Homo sapiens: one gene and its partners. The protein of the gene in region 3 interacts with the protein of the main gene of each other region in a pairwise test. Each region holds a gene or a part of one and is shown on either strand. Other genes may lie near its edges.

Region 1 (4,351 bases), on a different chromosome or scaffold from region 3:
CCTTCCTTCTTTCCTCCCTCCCTCCCTCTTTTCCTCTCTCCCTCCCTTTCTCTTCCTTTCTCTTGTAGAGTATATCATGGTGTGTTCTACCTAACACACCCAGGGAAACGCTGTGTTGACACATGTAGTTAATTTGAATTTAGCCTGCAGGGGACCTATAGATGAATAGGACATGCTTCTTCCCTTCAGAGAACTGAGAGCAGATGAAATGTGGGCACAACAATGTTAGTGCCCTGGCAAAGTGAAAACCATCAAAGTGGCCCGAGGACAAAGGCAGAATCCCTGCAGCGGGGGAGGTTCCAGTGAGCAGCACTGGGAGGAGGGCATTCCAGGCAGGAGGAGCAAGGCCCTCAGATGGGAAAGCAAGTGGCAAGCTGGAGGCCTGGGGAATAAAGGAGTCTGGCTGAAGAATTAGATTTGTCTCTGAAAAAGGTGGAAAATAGGATTGGAAAAGGGAGGTTGAGACTAGATTATGAAAGGCTTTGGACTGCTAGGCCTGGGGATCCAGGGAAGATTTATGCACATCAGAGTGAATTGATGGGCTGGAAGTAAGAGAAAGAGGAAGCAGGATAGGGTGGGGTCTAGAGGTGGCTCTAGGGGCCTATGGGACAGATTATCATCCCCTGGAGGTGAGAATAGAGACCCAGACAAGCCCCCTGCAGGTTGGCCAACTTCCCACATTCTGTGCTGTGACTCTGGGCTCTGGGAAGATAGACTTGCTGTAGGAGATAGCCCTGGCTGTGTCTGGGAGGGAGGGTGGTCTCAATGTCTCCTCAGTCAGCTTTCGGGAACCACCGACTGGGAGCTGTGAGACCAGAAGGTTGAGACTTGGTCTCCACATGTCTGCAGAGGTCGGAGGAGTGGGTAGGCAGCCCGAGGAAGGAGCAGCCTGAGAAGTGAGAGACAGCCTGGGGAAAGCCAGAGACAGTGGAGGCAAAGAGGAGGGTGAGGAGAAGGAGCAGGGTGGATTGGCGTTCTGAGAGGCTGGGGAGACCAGGACCATGAGGTCGGAAAAATAATGTAAGGGATGCAAGCCTGAGTACCCAGAGGGGATGATCTGTTCATTCAAAAAATATTGATCCAGCACCTTGTATGTGCCTGGCACTGTTGTAGACACCAGGGATAATGAAGTGAACGAAAAAAAGGTTTTCCTTCTCCTAAGGAGCTTTCATTCTAGAAGGAGAAATGGACAATAAGGAGATAAACAGGCAAGCATGCAAGGCCAGGTCCTCAGGATATGGGTTGGGGTGGGGAGAAGAATCAAGGGCAGCCTCTTGAGCCAAGATCTAAATGAGATGAGAGAATGAACCACACATACATTTCGGGGATGAGCCTCTGGGCAGAAATAATAGAAAGTGCAAGGGCTCTGAGGTGGGAACCTGTGGCTGCAGCACAAACAGTGAGGGAGGGAGTGCATGGAATTAAAATAAGAGGTAGCCAGGGCCAGACTAGACAGGGCCTGGTAGGCATGGCTAGAAGTCTTGTTTCAGGAGCAGTGGAAAACCATGTAGGCTTTTAAATTGATGAGGACATGTTCTAATCTTCTATATAAAACAGATCACATTGGTCAATGTCTGAAGAATGGACTATGAGGGTAAGAGCTGAGGCAGGGGAGTAGGCTAGAGCTTTATAGTTGAGCAAGAGGCATTGGTGGGATGGATAAAGGCAGTGACCCTGGGAAAGGGGGCAGGTGAAAAGATCTGTGATGTGTTATTTTCTTGGTAGAATTGGTGGGACGTGATGATGGTTGAATGTGTGATGAGGGAAAGGGAAAAGTCAAACAAATTCCTTGGTTTTTGACTTGTGCAACTGGAGCAGCAGCAATGCCAAAACACTAAGGTCATTGGGCCAGGCACAGTGGCTCACGCCTGTAATCCCAGCACTTTCGGAGACCGAGGTGGGTGGATCACTTGAGGTCAGGAGTTCGAGACCAGCCTGGCCAAGATGGTAAAACCCCATCTCTACTAAAAATACACAAATTAGCTGGGCATAATCGTGGGTGCCTATAATCCCAGCTACTCGGGAGGCTGAGGCAGGAGAATTGCTTGAACCAGGGAGGCGGAGGTTGCAGTGAGCCGAGATCATGCCATTGTATTCCAGCCTGGGTGACAGAGCACAACTCCATCTCAAAAACAAAACAAAATAAAACAAACAAACAAACAAAAAACAAAAAATGACCAAGGTCATGATGACCACAGCAAGGATCTGTTTACCAAGAGTCAGTCTTAGACATGTGAAAATTGAGAAAGTCATTAGACAGATGGGTGGAGCTATGGATAGGTAGGTGCATATAGGAGTCTGGAACTCAGGGGAGAGGTTGGGGCTGGTAATACGTTTGGGAGCCATTCTCATATACATGATATTTCAAGGCAAGGGATGGGATGGGATGAGATGGCCCAAAATACACAAGTATAGAGAAGAGAAGAGATCCAAGGGCTGAGCCTTGAGACTTCCAGCATGTAGAGGCTGCGGAGATGTGGAGGAACCAGCAAAGATTCTGTGAATAAGTAGGACTATCTAGTGAGGTGGGGAAAAAAATGGGAAAGTGGAGTGCAGGAAGCCAAGTGAAGAAAGTGTTTCCTGAACAAAGTGCTGGTGTTGGGGTGGTGACGCGAGGTGCTGATGGAACAAGATCAAGGTGAGGCTGCACCTGGCTGGGGAGTATGCATGGGCCTAAGCAGAGAGTTCAGCATGGAAGACAAGGAAGGTCAGCAGAAAAGGTGGAATCAAGAGACAAAACTGTGTGAAGGGGAGAGGAAGGAGTGAGAGGCTTCCATGTCCTCAGGGAAGGAGAAGTAGAGCCCTCCCCTCTGCCAAGTCAATTTGCACACATTCATCATGGTGGAATAACCATACAATTTATCTTCCAAGCAATAATAAATTTGAGAGTTAAAAGGAGTACAGATAATAATTATATCAGGCCAGACACGGTGGCTCACAACTGTATTCCCAGCACTTTGGGAGGCCAAGGCAGGTGGATCACCTGAGGTCAGGAGTTTGAGACCAGCCTGGCCAACACAGTGAAACCCCATCTCTACCAAAAATACAAAAAATTAGCCAGGTGTGATGGTGCACACATGTAGTCCCAACTACTGGGGAGAATGAGGCACAGGAATCGCTTGGACCTGGGAAGCAGAGATTGCGGTGAGTCAAGATCATGCCACTGCACTCCAGCCTGGGTGACAGAGTAAGACTCTGTTTCAAATAAATGAAACTATAAAATAATTATACCAGAAATACCAACATAGAGGCCGGCCCAGGCAAACCAGGACATATGTTCGTCCTACTCAACAGGCAACTCAAGCTCCTCCTCCTCCAGGAAGCATTACTTGTTAACTCTCGTCCACACAGATTGCTCCTCTTCCTGGCCCTCTAGCGTACATACTGTCTAGATCATGCCGGTGGCCGTTGATCTGATCAGAAGTTCTCAACCTGGAGGACCTAGCTGCATGTGTGCCAATCAGATATGAGCTGTGTCATGATCATTGTTGATTACTGATAATTGTTAAATACTGAAGTATGGGTTACAGCCTTTATTTTGTAAGTCAGAGTGGAAGGCAGGGTATCCCTATAATAACATCATTATGATTTCTGAATGATCCCAATATGATTTCTGAAAGAGAGAAACAGAGGTGGGGTTACCGCTGGCATGGATTGCTTATGAGGGACCCACATTGTGTCAGGCCCTGGGCACATGATATGAAATAGGTAAAGTCTCTGCTCTCTTGGCACTTATTTTAGTGAGAAGCTAGTGAGACAACCCAGCCCAACTTGCCCATGGAGACTCAGTGAGCAAGAGACAGAGTTAGCTGCTGAGGCACTACAAATGAATGCCGTGGTCTATTTCCATTGCTTCTTCCCTCCTCTGCTCCCGCTTTTTGTTTCATCAATTCATAGAAGGGTACCATGAATGTGAATCTCTTCTATAATATGCATCTGCCCAGCTGAAAAGTGATTGAGAATCCCAGGATTAGATTAAATCTAGCCATTTGCTCTATTGTAATTTGTATTGAGTTCTGTTCCCATTCATTCAAAGTATCTGAGCAGATGGGTGAAGAAATTACAGTAGGATTCCAGCAGTGTGAGTAAATGATTCCATCTGGAGAGGTCAGGGAAGTCTTCACAGAGGAGATGGCTTTTGAACTCTATTTTGAAGTATGGATAGGAGTGTGCCAGGGAGAAAAGGAGAGGCGTGTGCATTTCTGCTCTTAGACGGTGAGGCTCACGTCTTAACCCTTCCTTCCCTGAGGGTCTAGCAAAGCCCTAGGCACTCAGTGATGTCTCAATGCTTATTTCTGAGTCAGGGATGGAGTGAAGGGCCTGATTTAGCTTAGTGCTGGAAGGGGAGGAG
Region 2 (5,675 bases), on a different chromosome or scaffold from region 3:
ACTATGCCCAGCGAATTTTGTTTTTGTATTTTTAGTAGAGACGGGGTTTCACCGTGTTAGCCAGGATGGTCTCGATCTCCTGACCTGGTGATCCACCCGCCTCGTCCTCCCAAAGTGCTGGGATTACAGGTGCAAGCCATCACGCCCAGCCAGGGAAAGTAATATTTTTAAAAATAGGGAAATCCTACTTTTATAGTGTTTATAAAAATAATAACTTACTCAAGCACTACCCTTGGCCTGTCTGACTGGCAGATTCATTTAAGCCTTATGATAACCTTATGGGGTGGTATTTTTATTGTAGCCAAAATAACTTTTTTGTTTGAGTTTGATTAATTTATCTTAACTTTTTTATCTTTAGTTTTTCTGTGGATATTTCCATTTGCACTTGGAGGTCTCTAATAAGTAGCAAATAATACTTCAAAAAATTAAGACATATTTGCTGCAGGAAAAAAAGGAAGAGAAACACCCTCAGCTCAACTTCAGCAAAAATGAGGTGGTTTTTTTTTTTTTTTTTTTTTTTTTTTTTTTTTTTTTTGAGACGGAGTCTTGCTCTGTCTCCCAGGCTGGAGTGCAGTGGCGCGATCTTGGCTCACTGCAAGCTCCGCCTCCCAGGTTCATGCCATTCTCCTGCCTCAGCCTCCCGAGTAGCTGGAACTACAAGCGCCTGCCACCACACCCGGCTAATTTTTTGTATTTTTAGTAGAGATGGGGTTTGACCGTGTTAGCCAGGATGGTCTCGATCTCCTGACCTCATGATCCGCCTGCCTCAGCCTCCCAAAGTGTTGGGATTACAGGCATGAGCCACTGCGCCCGGCCAAAAATGACTTTTAACATTTTTTGTGTTTCAGCATTTTTCAACATATAGTTTCTAGAATGCTACATATGACCCTGCCTATTTTCTTTCTTTCTCTTTCTTTCTTTCATCTCTCTCTCTCTCTCTCTCTCTCTTTCTCTCTCTCTCTCTCTCTTCTTTTCTTTCATTGTGGTTACAGGGTCTTGCTCTTTCCAGCCAGAGTGTGGTGGCATGATCATGGCTCACTGCAGCCTCAACCTCCTAGGCTCAAGCTATCCTCCTCCCTTACCCACCCAAGTAACTGGGACTACAGGTGTGTGCCACCACACCTAGATAATTTTTGTATTTTTTTTTTTTTTTTTTTGTAGAGATAGAGGTTTCGCTTTGTTGCTCAGGCTGGTCTCGAACTCCCAGACTCAAGGGATCTGCCCACCTTGGCCTCCCAAATTGCTAAGATTACACAGTAGCATGAGCTGCTGTGCCCAGAAATTTATTTCCACTTAATAGCATAACAGAAATTTTCTGTGTAATTACAAACATTGGAACTTTTTTTCACATCTACCCAATATTTCAATTAGGTAAATATACCTTAATCAATTAACCCTATTGGTCAATATTCAGATTACTTTTATGCTTACATTATTTCAAAGAAGAATGCAATAAACACTTTTCTGTAGAACGCGTTTTATTTAGAACGCCATCCTTGGGCTAGATTGGCGGAAGTTGGAGGCGTCATGCAGCGCCTCCTGCCTGGGAGCCAGGCGATCCGCCAGGTTCTGGGAGGACCTAAGGTCAACAGCCACGCCTGCTCTCTGGGCTCACAGTCAGCAGCCGCTACCAGGAGAGCAAGTCCTCAGAAGGCCCGAGACCAGGGCCCGGGAGCGCCCACAAGGACGGGAGGTCACCCAGTGACAAACAGGGAAGGGCAGCAGGTGCGCCCAGGAACCCAGAGGCTCCCAGAGCAGAAGTGGGATGCAGGGGTGGGGGCGGGTCATGCTGAGGTTCAACAGGGACCTGCTTCCTGGTTCAACAGGGAGCTGGCCAGAGAGAGGGATCTGCTGAGGCTTCTGTTTAAAAACCCTGGCCTGGGTGTGGGTGCAAGTGGATTTGCAGGTGCAGTGAGGCAGCGGCCGGAGCAGGCTGTTGCACGAAGACCCAGGAAAGTCAGGGTGGTTTGATCCAGGCAGAAGAGGGGGAAATGGAGCCTGGGGCAGACGTAAAGGTGCTGGGGTGAGGATAAGGGTGACAGGAGGGAGGAGTCTGGGGTGACCAAGGCCTGCAGCTCAGGTGACTGGGAAAAAACATAAAACAGAACACAGATGAATGCAGGGGTCGGGACGAAGGCTCCTGTGAGTCTGAAGTGACTGTGAGTGGCACCCTCTGGCCAGCCACAGTGGCTCTCACAGCTCATTCTGCAGAGCACCGGCCCAGTGATGAGCCGAGGAAGTGCCCCTGGAGGTCAGCTGGATCTGCCCAGTGGTCTGCACAGGGGGCGGCTGCCAGGGGCCTGAGCACAGGGAAACCCTCGAAACTGTGGGAGGGATGAAGCCAGAGAGGTAGACCCCAGAACCGACCAAGCCCAGCATGGGGCGTGGAGGGCGGCCAAGCTCAAGAAGACCATGAGATTGGAGAAGGAGCTGCAGAGAGGTGGAAGGCAGACAGGCGAAGGACTCACGAGCACGTCCAACAGCCGTCCTAAGGGCCGGCTGGAGGGAAAGAGACCTGAAGACACGTTGGGGGGCGGGGCCGGGCAGGGGCGGGGCCAGGCCGGGCAGGGGCGGGACGGGGGCGCCGGAGGGCAGGGCTTGGAGAATTCTCACCTGAGTGGAAGAGCAGAGGGAGGAGGTGGGTGGGTGGCAGCGGTTTCCAGGCAGCAGCTACAGGGGACTGAGGGCCACACCCCGAATGCCCTAGCCCAGGGGGCACAAGTTTCAAACGTACACACCCAGTGGGGCTATCTGCCTCTTTACAGCTTTATCTCAATTAGTAGGAAAGTTTTCTCATAAACGTTCTGCGTTTCCGTCGTGCCACTGGTCTGCGTCCTCGGTCTCTCTGGGGCCTCAGGTCTGTGCGCTGCACACGGGCTGAACCTCTGGATCATGATGCACTTCCTAACACTGGGCAGCTATTTCTCTGCTTGTTGGCTCTGTGAAGACGTGTTTTTTACGGACAGCACTTTCTAATGTTTATGTAGTAAGTTTGTGTATACTTCCCTTAGCTCACTAAGGAACCTTCAACTGTTGTCTTCCTGGTGTTGCACGAATCCTGGGCTCAGACAGAGGGACCCCGGCCATGCTGACCCCTGCCTGGGAGGCGGGCTCACCCAGGAGGGCCTGGGAGGGAACATTGCCGGGCATCTGCAGTCACCTAAGCACATAGTGAAAAAGTCACCTATTTTCTTCTGGCTTTCTCTGGAGAATTTTTTAAATATCCATTTTAAGATCTAAGTAGATTGTTTTTCTTTTCCTTTTTCTGAGACGGAGTCTCCCTCTGTCGCCCAGGCTGGAGTGCAGTGGTGCAATCTTGGCTCACTGCAACCTCCGCCTCCCAGGTTCAAGCGATTCTCATGCCTTAGCCTCCTGAGTAGCTGGGATTACAGGTGTGCGCCAGGACACCTAGCTAATTTTTGTATTTTTTGTGGAGATGGGGTTTCACCATGTTGGCCAAGCTGGTCTCAAACTCCTGACCTCAGGTGATACGCCCCGGCTCGGCCTCCCAAAGTGTTGGGATTACAAGCGTGAGCCACCGTGCCCGGCCAGATTGTTCTTCAAGGAGTTCATGCCCCCACTACACACTGACCTGAGCCGTGCTGGCCCCCAGTCCGTGCACGTGGAAAGGACACCCCATTGCACAGCCTCGGATTCCTCTGTGGCCAATCGAGTGTATCTAGGGAGAATTCCCAAGGGTGCTTCTAGATACGGCACCTCAGATAAGGCCCCAGAGCAGCACCGCAGGGACCCCCGGCACAATTTCGGAAAGAGCTAAAAGGGTGAGATTGCCACAACACTCCCGCCACTGGGGACTCTGTCCCTACCACAATGGGCAGCCCCTGGGCACCTGGCCCCATGTCTTAGCACCCTCTAGAAACAGCCAATGTCACACCAAGCAGAGAGTTTATTGAGGCCATGGGCAGGGCCCAGGAACACAGCACGGGGCGTGCGTGGGGTGGATGCACGCTGGACTGCAGGGGTGCGCTAGCAGCGGCAAGCGGAGGGGTATTGGGGGCCCAGGAGGGCCCCCCCTCCTAGCAGCGTCTAGGGGCTTCAGGTGAGCATCAAGAACCACTCCTAGCCTCCGCAGGGCTCTTTTGGGAACCCCTCCCTGCTTCCCCCTGAGCTCCATGTGGGGTGGGGCTGGGGCGAGGGGGCCCCTCTTGTCCCTGTGGTCAAGGATGGGATGATCCCTTGAGATTCACTATAAAAATTAAAATTCCCTTATAAATCGCAGGGGAGTGGCAGGAGGGCATCACTTGGAAGCCGACATTACCTGTCCCTAGAGCCGCACCTCCTCCACACCCCCGAAGTTCTGACCCCAAAGTGAAGAATAGAGGATAAGGTTTGCAGGCACAGAGAGGGGCAGAGACACCAGGAGAGAGAAAAGGGAGACTGGGAAGGGAAGGAGGAGGACAACACAGAGAAAGAACGGATCTGAGGAAAAGCAGGGGCACGGGGGCTCCACTCCCCCGCAGCCCCAACAGCTGCGCCCTGGGGACCGAGGACGAGAGTTCCCAGCCCGCAGACCCCCACAAGCGTAAGGTCCCATGTCCCCCCAATCCAGTCCTTGCCAAAGCCATGGTGGCCTCTTGAGACATCCTCAGCCCCAGCTGCGCCTGGAGCAGACGGCCAGGAGACAGAGCGGTGGGCAGGCTACTCCAGGTAGATGTCCTCCGTGGGGCAGGCGTACGCCAGGTGCTCTTGGTAGTACTCCAGGAAGGCGCGGCTGGGGAAAGACGGTCCTCCACCAGCCACTCAGGGCCGGTCCTCAACCCCCAAACTGCCTTCCACAGAGCCTCTGAGCTCTCCCTCCTTCCTCCCTCTGCAGCCATCCATAACCCCCCACCCAGGCATGGCCATGTCACCCCCAAGTGTGACCCTCAGCTCTCCTGGCCCAGCAATTCTACCCCTGCCAGAGTGCCTGGGCCATGTGTCTGTGCCTGTTCCCACCCCATGCCCAGCACCCCAAACTGTCACCCACCACTGCCCTCTCTACACAGCACATCTGGTTCTCCTTCCCCAGACCTCCCCTGCCAGGCTCCTGCCCCCACCTGCTCACCTCCGCTCCCCACCTCCGTAACCCTGCACCCATTCTGCACCCACACCCTGGGGCCCCACTCACCCCACACTCTGCGCCACCGGCCTCATGGACTCCTGGGAGACAAAGACGTGGCAGGCGAAGCGGCTCAGCAGGGGGTGTTTGGTGATGAAGCCGAAATAGCTGCGGGCAAGTCAGTGTGGAGGGCACGTCAGAGCCCTGGCCCAGCCTTGGCCACCCCACAAATGATGTAGAGAGAAGAGGCAGGAACAAAGGGCTTGGGGAGAGGGTAAGGGACAGGAGTGTGGGGGTCGCACAATTTCAAGATCTGAAGTTGTCTTTTTTTGGTTTCAGCCCAAGCACAGGGCTGGGCACCTACCAAGAGTTCACGCTCTGAGTTAATTCCATGATGACCAGGGGCGTCCACTCTCCCTTCTCTGAGCCGGTGCTGCTACCCTCTGTGGCCCTATTCAGGGCCTGCCCCAGGACCACAGAGCAAGGCCTCTGCCTGGCTACTGGAGACCATATCTCCTGCCAACTCAGGCCTCCTCCTGCGGGCCTAGCAGACTGACAGCCCCTTGCCCAGCTCCGAGGTGGGGCTGGACGTTACCCCTGGTCTGTAAAACCCTCT
Region 3 (4,380 bases):
TGCTGAAAAGCAGTTGACAGGCACCGACGAGGGGAATCAGGGGCAGGTGGGGGAGGGGATGGAGCCTGACCAGGTCTAGAAGTAAACAGGAGTCCAGCCAGTGACTATCCCTGCCAGTTCCTGCAGGTAAATTAGGCTTCACATAGCCAGACGTTTGCTCCTTCATCGGCTGGATGGGAACAAAGAACCCTTTTAACCAATGAGGGAACTGAGGCTGAAGAAGAGCTCAGACCTTGCTCGGTAATTACAGCAGCCCCTGGTGAAGGCCACACCCTCACCCTTGACTGGGGATGGCTGTAGGGAACTGGCAGCTCAAAAGGGGACAGGTGGTTTTGCCCCTGGGATAATGGGATCACTGGGCCTTACTGGGAAGCCCTCTGGGCCTGGGGCAGGCCAAGAGCCTGCCCCTGGGCCTGGGCAGCAAGGTCTCTGCCAAGGACAGAGGCCAGTGATGGACCAGCTTGGAAACCAGGAGGCCTGGGCAGCATCTCTCCTGGCCTGCAGACCTGGCGTTGCCTGTCTCACCTGGGCCTGGGCAGCAGGACTTGAGAAAAGAACCCAGCAGACAGCTGGTGATTGGGGAGAGCTCAGAAAATCTCGGATCAAACATCCTCACCAGTTCTGCTCCAACCAACACCCAGGAGGGTCGAGGGTACCGGAGCCTCCTCCAATCCCTGGGGACGTGGCTCTTCCTCCCCTAAAATCCTCCAGAGGGGACAGTATCTCATGCTGGCAAAACACGGCCACACAGAGGCCAAAAGCACAGAGAGGCAGCAACATAATTCCGAGTCGGACACTGAGAATACAACCTCTATTTTTTTTTTTAGTCCAAAACATGTAGATTGGTTTTGTTGAGTGTTTTCTTCTTTTTGTTTGTTTTCAACATACTTACTGCGTATAAAGTCATGCAAAGAAAACAGTGCAGACAGTAGATCCTAGTGGATGTGCCAAGGTATTCCACTCAGAGTCAATCCCAGGGAAAGAGGGAAAGAGGAAAAGAAAGAGAGAATGCGAACCCGAGGCTGCAGGATGAGGCATGAAGAGTAGAAATTCCCAGTGCTTTGCTGTGGTCATCAGACGCCAAGGGGAGAGAGGCAATGAAGACACACGCTCACGGGCCCCCCAGAGGTGGGTGGGGGGTGCTGGGGGCGGCACACAGATATGGTGAGATGAAATCCTGGGAAGTTCGGTAGAGAAGACCCCAGTTTGCGAGGGAAGCAAAGAAAAGTCCAGGTATTTCCATCCTGACAGCCTCCCTCCTCCTCTCTGCCCTGACTTGCTGTTCCTGAGTCAGTGCTGGCATCTGATGCTTCCACAGTCCCAAAAGGAACGCCTGTGTCAGCTCACCTTGGGACCGAAATGGCAGAGAGGCCCTTCTCCCCGGAGCTGAGTCCACCTTGGCCCCAATAACCACAGGTGACAAGGTCCACCTCAGAGATGACAAAAAAAAAAAAAAAAACTAGAACAGAAAAAAACTACCCCTCACCCCTCTTCCTACACCCCTTCCAACCTGACCCTTCTCACAATAATCTGAGAAGTCTAGTTATTACATAAATATCCATTAACGCGAAATCCATTTACGAAATACACAGAAATTTGGCTATAAAAAGGCATGCGGTCCAAGTAGAAGTGATACCTAAACGTTGCTTTCTTTTGCCCCCCAAAAACAATTAGATTCCCTCTCTGAGATACGACAAAGCTGGAATTCTCCAGGGATGACGGGGGTGGGGTGGGCAGGTTAATGTTGGAGGTGGACTTCACCAGAAGGAAGCAGAAAGCAAGTAGGGGCACCTGAGAGGGCCACATCCCCCACACCGAGGGAAGGGTCAGACCACCCTGAGGTCAGCACAGGAGGAAGAAGACTTAGGGGAGCACTTTGAGGCAGGAGGCTCCTGGCGTATGCTCTTCTCCCCACTCCTTCAGTGCGGTTGGCTTAGGGGGAAGGGAGTGTCATCTGCCCTTCCCCGGGGACACTGGAAGAGGAGAGGTCTGGGAGAGGGACGGACGGATGCTGCCTTCCTCATCATGCCACCCCTCCTTCTCCCCAGCCCCTGGTGGGCACCAGCCCGGGCATTCTAGCCTACAGCCCAAGACAGATCAGGCGGACAGCAGCTGAGGCTGGGGAGAGGGGGCCAGTGCTGTGGACACCCATGCCTGAGGAAGCCCCAGCCTGGCAGGGGAGAGGGTGGGGGTGAGAGGTGGGGAGATGTGGCCGTTCGCTCTGAAGTTGCGATGACTTTTGTGAACAAGCAGGTTTTCTTGATGCAGGTACAGAAGTGACGGTGGTGGGGTGATGACATGGGAGAATTCCAGCAAAATCCACCTGGGAGAACCAGCAGCTCCACTCCACGGACAGAGTGGATCTCTGCGGCACAGCAACGCAGCGACCCCAGCCTGGTCCCTCAGCTGTAAGACACACACGGGGTGCTTCTCAGGGCATGGTGTTTCCTGCTTGGGCAACCCACCCACCCTGCCGCTTTAGATGGAGTCCATGCGGTCCCTGGTGGCTCCTGCCCAGCTCTTCCCCCAGACCTGCAGGCCTGGCCCCCTTCTTGGGGTCTCCCCACCCCACTCTGCAGCCTTTCAGAGCTGAAGGCAGCAGCTTCCCCGACGTAACCCCCTCCAGGGCAACACTCCCATCCTTTACATTACCCTGGGAGGCAGGAAGGAGGGATTCTTACTGGGGCAGGACGGAGGGCGCCCCAGATCTGTGGAAGTGGACGATCTGCCATTTGCCATCCCGGCGGTGCCAGACACGGGTCTCCTCCGACTGGGCGGTGCGTGGGATGCCGCCAGCGTCCAGGTACTGCGTGATGCGGATGTAGGCGATGCAGGCTGACTCGTCGCCCATCAGGTGGATGTGGGGATTCAGGATGGTGGTGTGCACGGGCTTGCTGTTCCGGGACCACACTGGAGGAGGGGATGGGAGGGGCAGAGGAGATGCAACCGGGGGCCTCCTGTCTCACTTTCTTCACTTTCTCCACTCCCAGCAGCCCTCTCAATGGAGGCGCCCTGCCTGACTCATTTGCAGGGAAGGGGCCTGTGTGGCAGGACTCAGCTACCTGGGATCAAGGTAGAACTTCTAGATGATGGGGACATCACATCCTAGTTTAGATACAGTGGAGTTCAGACATGCAGAATTCATCAAACATGAGAAAATGGAATGTTTGAATCATGACCGTTAGCCACATGGAATAAGCCTAGAGGATCATAGAACCAGAAGAGCTGTGAGCACAGTCTCAAATCCGGATCCCCCCAGGTACCAGGCAGGCACATAAACAACGGGGGCTGAGCTGGGTATAAGATGCTAAATGACAACTGACCCTTTGCCTCTGGGTCAGGGAGGCGATAGGGAGTGATGGGGACTGTGGCGAATAGAATGTCTTGTCCCACCTAAAGAGGGCATCCTGCACACAGCTTCCCTGGTGGTTGCCATGTGAGTGAGACCAGTGTTGACGTGCCTCGTTTTTCAAGAGAATCTGGAAATCTGAATTTTTATATGAAAACTCTTCATTTTTTAGTATTGGCATCTAATTCAAATTTAAAACATCATGCAAGCCAAGTGAAACATATCTACAGTTCAGACACGGCCCGTGGGCCTGTCTGAAGTATATCTACTTCTACTGTATATCTACTTCTACTGTAGATATACAGAATTGTGGAAACGTGGAGGAATATGAAAATTGTAGAATCTTAGAACCTTGAAATGATAAGGATGGTATTGGTGGTCATGGGGTGAGGTCATGGGACTTTCCAGCGTTAGGGAGAGATGCATAGCTCTTGGAATCATGATGGGGCTGACAAAGTCCCTGACACCAGCTTCCACCAGATGAAACATGAGGCATCTCCAGGACTATTATTATATTAATTCTAGAAACTCGATGTTTTCCTCAAGATAGGAAATGAAAGCATAGAAAGACAATGACCCAGGGAGGGGTTGGACAGTGGTGATCTGTATCTTGGGCTTGAGAGGAGCCCTTCCCTTTGTGTAGCCCGAATATAGGTCTGAATCATGTGAGGTGCTGACTTAAAACACAGCTTCCCCAACCCCACCCTTAGAGAGCCCAGTTCAAGAATCTCTAATATTAAAAATCTCCCTTCTCCTTCCCTACCACTTGATCCTGGTGCCAAGCCAGGTTTGTGAGCCACTTATTTCCTGAAAAATGTAAAATGTCTTTTTTTTTCAGGATTGCAGAAAATATCCAATAACACCCATCCCCTAATATCAGAAGCACGCTACACCCAGGCTTTGAATAAGGACTTAAAATCACCAAGTCTTAGGCACCATAGAATAACAGACTTTGAATTTGGGCTCTCAGACATACAGAATGTAGGGTTTCAGCGTCATAGACTTGGGAGTGACCTCAGAGGTCAGAGGTC
Region 4 (5,489 bases), on a different chromosome or scaffold from region 3:
AAAAGAGAAACTTACACCTTGCAGAGTAACCATCAGCTGCCTTCAAATAAAGGGGAAATAGATAAGAGTTGCATTTTTGAGAATGAACAATTATAATCTATGCTTTGGGCAAAGGAAGGACAGATAACACCCAAGTTAGATGCCTGCATGTGTCAAAACTTAGCATACTGGAGGAAACATACTCACACACAAACATACCTTAGCATGCTAGTGGAAATACACTTAGACACAAACATATCCACATACATTTATACATACTCAACACTTCGTTGTGATCTTAGTTTGAATGTAGCCTGCAGCCATACTTCTTTTCATTTTGGAGACAAGGTCTCCCTCTGTAGCCCAAGTTAGAGTGTGGTGCATCAATCATAGCTCACTGCAGCCTTGAACTCCTGGGCTCAAAAGATCCTCCCACCTCAGCTTTCCAAGTAGCTGAGACTACAGGGTGTGCACCACCATGCCTGGCTTTTTTTTTTTGGTAGAGATAGGGTCTTGCTCTGTTGCCCAGGCTGGTCTAGAACTCCTGGCCTTGAAGATCATCCCACCGTGGCCTCTCAAAGTATTGGGATTATAGGAGTGAGCCACCTCAACCAACCTCATTTTCTCCTTTTATGGGCTGATGAATCCTAATCTGACTGACCAGTAGCTGTACCTAATCCAGATAGAATTATCCTGAAGACCTCATCTCCAAAAACTATTTCTTAATTTTATTTGAGTCCGATGAGTGTGGCTTGTCAAATTCAGACAACACTCTCAACCAGCAGTTACGGCTTTACCTCTGCCAAGCTCTATACAGCTAGTGGCTGTTCTCTGGAGTGTGCTTCCCACTGATTAAAAAAACTTACCTGCTGGATATACAGATGCTCCTTGACTTACAATGGGGCTACATCCTGATATATCCATCCTAAGTTGTATGTTTTTGATTTATGATTTTTTTTTTTTTGAGGCGGAGTCTCGCTCTGTCACCCAGGCTGGAGTGCAGTGGCACGATCTCAGCTCGCTACAACCTCTGCCTCCTGGGTTCAAGCAATTCCCCTGCCTCAGCCTCCCAAGTAGCTGGGACTACAGGCACATACCACCACACCCAGCTAATTTTTCTATTTTTAGTAGAGACGGGGTTTCGACATGTTGGCCCGGCTTGTTTCCTGACCAACTCCTGACCTCAGGTGATAGCCCGCCTTGGCCTCCCAAAGTGCTGGGATTACAGGTAGTGAGCCACTGCGCCCAGCCTGATTTATGATATTTTTAATTTATGATGGGTTTCTGTATGTAATCCCGTAGTAAGTTAAGAATGTACTAAATGCATATCACTTTCACCCCATCGAGTTATAAAATCGTAAGTCAAACCACTGTAAAGTTGGAGATTGCTGTAGTTTGTTTTAATACATAAGATCCTTGATGTGCTAAATTCATTTTTTGAGGGGAGGCAGAATATTAAAGATGACTAAGAGTACTGATTTTAAGAGTGGCTGCACACACTGATCTCTATCAATCTTGGGGACAGACCACTATGGTAAGACTCTAACTTTACCATAGCTTTGACTCAGGTTACTCAGAAATTGAATACACTCTGCTTTGAGATCGGATTGCCTAGTTGCATTGTGAACCTTTTATCCTTTATTTGTTCTACACATTCCATTCTACATCAGCATCAATCATTTTTAGAATCCTAGATGCTGGGTTGGGCAATGGATTTGGGAGCCAGGAGCACTGAAGTTTGGAAAGAAAGCCTTCAATTGGGCCACTTCTCTGGGACTGGCTCTGGGCTGGTAGCATAAATAGCATTATAATGGTAAATCTCCAGTCAAATGTATTTACAAGCAAAGCCCCAGAAATGTTGAACACTGGTACCTGGGACACAAAATAGCACTATATATTGTATATAATAACAACTTAGGTTCCAGATTGAGTAATCAATCATGTATCCCTTTAGCATGTTCCCTAAGTGTTTAAATCAGAGGTGAGTGAGATTAAGAGGATGAAGGAGGTAAACTAGAACGAGTAACTTTTTAGTCCTTGCATTGATTAGAGTTGTTATGAGTGCACTGTGTGATTTAAGTTACTAATCTATCAAAGTGTTCCTTCATAACAAAAAAAAAAAGAAAAAAAAATTTACTAACCTAGTGAAGGAAATGGAAAGGCCACAATTCCATTTACAACATAGATTTTCTTTTAAGAAGTGCAACATTCTGATTTCAGAAAAAAACAAAAAACTAAAATATGTAGGCTGCTTTCTAACTCGAAAAATGACTTTATTAGCATGTTTGAATAAAAAGGTACAAACTAAAGCCCATCTGGTAGAGTTTAAATATTGTGAGAAAGGTTTACAGTGCAGGCTGATTTGAGAGGCCTATTAACTCATTGTTTCCTCTAACTTTTCAGATGTGATTCTGGGTGTCATCTGTCACATTTGTAAAATGAGTATATTATCACACAATCCTTCGCAACTGTGCCAGCACTTCCCTAGCAAACTGCAAACTTGAGTTTTTCAGGAAAACAGTTTACATGAGAAAAGGCAAGTTCTTTCCCATTTCGAATGAAGTACCATTAAACTCTGTCACCTAGTGAAAAATAATAAAAATACTTGCAACTTTTACTGGGTTTTCATTATTCTCTGATTCAGCTATTAACTATTTATGAGTTCAATTTAAGAATATTTCTTACTTGGGGTTAGGACTGTGAACACCCCAGTTAAGAATCAGTGCTGTAAAATAAAAGGTGTTATGGGATGAGAAGAGTGCTGGGCACATGAAAACCACAGACGGCAAACTTTGAGAACCACCAAAACAGACCCTTCAGGTAGAATCTATACATTAAAACCACTGGAAAGAGGAAAGGGTTAAAAAAAAAATCCAAAACCAAAAAACAAAACCAACCTTTATTTTTGTTATAGAAAAAAGGAGGCTTATTACTACTCCAACTTCATTACTTATAACTGAAACAGCAATTACCATCAGTTAAAAGTACCTTAGGGCCAGGGGCAGTGGCTCGCGCCTGTAATCCCAGCACTTTGGGAGGCTGACGTGGGCGGATCACAAGGTCAGGAGATTGAGACCATCCTGGCTAACATGGTGAAACCCCGTCTCTACTAAAAATACAAAAAAAATTAGTCGGGCATGGTGGTGGGTGCCTGTAGTCCCAGCTACAGGAGAGGCTGAGGCAGGAGAATGGCGTGAATCCAGGAGGCGGAGCTTGCAGTGAGCCGAGATCGTCCCACTGCACTCCAACCTGGGTGACAGAGCAGGACTCCATTTCAAAAAAAAAAAAAAAGAAAGTACCTTAGGCTGGGTGTAGTGGCTCACGCCTGTAATCCCAGCACTTTGGGAGGCCGAGGTGGGCAGATCACGAGATCAGGAGTTCGAGACCAGCCTGACCAACATGGTGAAACCCTGTCTCTACTATAAATACAAAAATTAGCTGGGCGTGGTGGTGTGCACCTGTAATCCCAGCAATTCAGGAGGCAGAAGCAGGAGAACCGCTTGAATCCGGGAAGTGGAGGTTGCAGTGAGCTGAGATCGTACCATTGCACTCCAGCCTGGGCGACAGAGCGAGACTGTCTCAAAAAAAAAAAAAGTACCTTAAAGCAACAGCAAGAACATTGTGTAAGATCAAATGACCATCTGAGGTAATATAAAGTATGGATGTTGTTTTGTTTTCCTTTTTTCTCCTTACGCCTCTATGCTTTGAAATCATCTTCCTTATAATGTTTACATTAAAATAATTTGTCAATCTGTATACTTATGTGTCATGTTCTTCTGAGTTATATTTACCAATAATTTGATTTTTAAAAAGTATAATCTAATAAAAAAAATATTTATCCAAATTTCCCAGCGAAACCTTTGCAAAATCTGTCTGTCTGAACTATCAGGTTAAGAGGTTAAGGCTTAACTCACCTGGAAGAAGCTGCCTAAACTGACAGTATTACAACCTAATAGGTAATCATCTTTCAAATTTAACAATATTACCAACAAAATATTGTTTTGTGGAAGGGACTTAGAAAAGTGGTATAATCTCTCTCTCTCTCTCACACACACACATAAACATACACACAAACCCACCCCCAAAAATTTTTTAAAAAAGAGACAGTCAAACCAAATATGCTTCACACTTGTTTTGCTTATATTGATCATTTAAAAAGAGATATTAATCTTACCTATTGCCATGAATATTTCATTTACATTCATTGATGTTTTAGCGGATGTCTCCATGAATAATAAACTATTGTCATCTGCATAGGACTGTGCTTCCTGTTTACAGAACAAAAAATGAGATATATGAGATATATCTCTTGGAAATACACTACACCTGCTTTAAACTTGTTATAGAAAAGGAGACTTTCTTATTACTACAACCTGATTCCTATAATCATCTATAATCAACAACTATATAATAAGCTACAACAGAGGTAAGAGCACTGTGCAAGATAATTTTATAATGGACTATTTCCTTTTTTGTCTGAAATTCTTGCATTATCCCACCTTGATTAATCTTTTCTTACATTAAATCTGCTTTCAAATACTGAGTTCCAGAGATGGGGGAGAATTATCTTATTCTAAATAAAACTCTCTTTGATCTCAACGGCAATTTTTATTTGCACTTACTGTCTGCAATGAAGACAAAGGGAAACCAAATATCTAACACTGGCTTCAAACACTAAATGACAACCTCATATTTAATTTTCAATGACTTCTACAGCAATATTATAATCTTGAATATATCATAAATCATTCCTTTGAAAATTACATCACTGCCCTACATTTTTGTCATGCTTTTACAGTTTACATATATTATTACTTTTGATCCTCATAGCTGTTGTGAGGGGTAACCAATGATCTTTCCCATTGGACAAAGAAACAACTGAGGTTCCTCTGAACTGTTATGTGACAGGGCCACTTCTGACTGTAATTTAAGTGTTTTCTCTGCCACTCTTGTGCTGGGAAGGCAACAATTTTGGAAAGAGTAATGGATACTACATCTCACATCGTTGTCCTAAGAATTAAATAAAATTACAAATGTAACATGCCCAACTTAATACCTAATGATGCAAGAATACATGGATTCCATCTACGTCATCAAAAAAGAAAACTATTTCATCACTGATATATACAGAACAGCCACAACCGCCCTTCTAGTAGAGAAGCCAAAGAGCAAGAGAACAGGCACAGTTTTAAAAGGTCTAAGTATGCCGGGCGTGGTGGCTCACGCCTGTAATCCTAGCACTTTTGGAGGCGGAGGCGGGTGGATCACAAGGTCAGGAGATCGAGACCACCCTGGCTAACACAGTGAAACCCTGTCTCTACTGAAAACACACAAAAAATTAGCCAGGAGTGGTGGTGGGCGCCTGTAGTCCCAGCTACTTGGGAGGCTGAGGCAGCAGAATGGCGTAAGCCCAGGAGGTGGAGCTTGCAGTGAGCTTGAGATTGCGCCACTGCACTCCAGCCTGGGCAACTGAGCAAGACTCCATCTTAAAAAAAAAAAAAAAAGTCTAA

The links.
Region 1: the proteins of CAMK2A (region 3) and C1orf94 interact in binary tests that used the Homo sapiens proteins (3 or more experiments, as listed by UniProt).
Region 2: the proteins of CAMK2A (region 3) and MAPK8IP2 interact in binary tests that used the Homo sapiens proteins (3 or more experiments, as listed by UniProt).
Region 4: the proteins of CAMK2A (region 3) and RAB5A interact in binary tests that used the Homo sapiens proteins (3 or more experiments, as listed by UniProt).

Annotation. Positions count from the first base shown.
Region 1 is NC_000001.11:34,213,878-34,218,228, forward strand, and holds part of C1orf94 (uncharacterized protein C1orf94), read left to right. Parts: intron 1-4,351.
Region 2 is NC_000022.11:50,609,764-50,615,438, reverse strand, and holds the end of MAPK8IP2 (C-Jun-amino-terminal kinase-interacting protein 2), read right to left. Parts: intron 5,228-5,675; coding exon 5,129-5,227; intron 4,733-5,128; coding exon 4,660-4,732; 3' UTR 1,461-4,659; downstream 1-1,460. UniProt on the Homo sapiens protein: The JNK-interacting protein (JIP) group of scaffold proteins selectively mediates JNK signaling by aggregating specific components of the MAPK cascade to form a functional JNK signaling module.
Region 3 is NC_000005.10:150,220,308-150,224,687, forward strand, and holds part of CAMK2A (calcium/calmodulin-dependent protein kinase type II subunit alpha), read right to left. Parts: intron 2,911-4,380; coding exon 2,682-2,910; coding exon of another isoform or gene 2,678-2,681; exon of another isoform or gene 2,653-2,677; intron 2,407-2,652; coding exon 2,403-2,406; 3' UTR 1-2,402. UniProt on the Homo sapiens protein: Calcium/calmodulin-dependent protein kinase that functions autonomously after Ca(2+)/calmodulin-binding and autophosphorylation, and is involved in various processes, such as synaptic plasticity, neurotransmitter release and long-term potentiation.
Region 4 is NC_000003.12:19,977,068-19,982,556, reverse strand, and holds part of RAB5A (ras-related protein Rab-5A), read right to left. Parts: intron 4,248-5,489; coding exon 4,154-4,247; intron 2,597-4,153; exon of another isoform or gene 2,383-2,596; intron 1-2,382. UniProt on the Homo sapiens protein: The small GTPases Rab are key regulators of intracellular membrane trafficking, from the formation of transport vesicles to their fusion with membranes.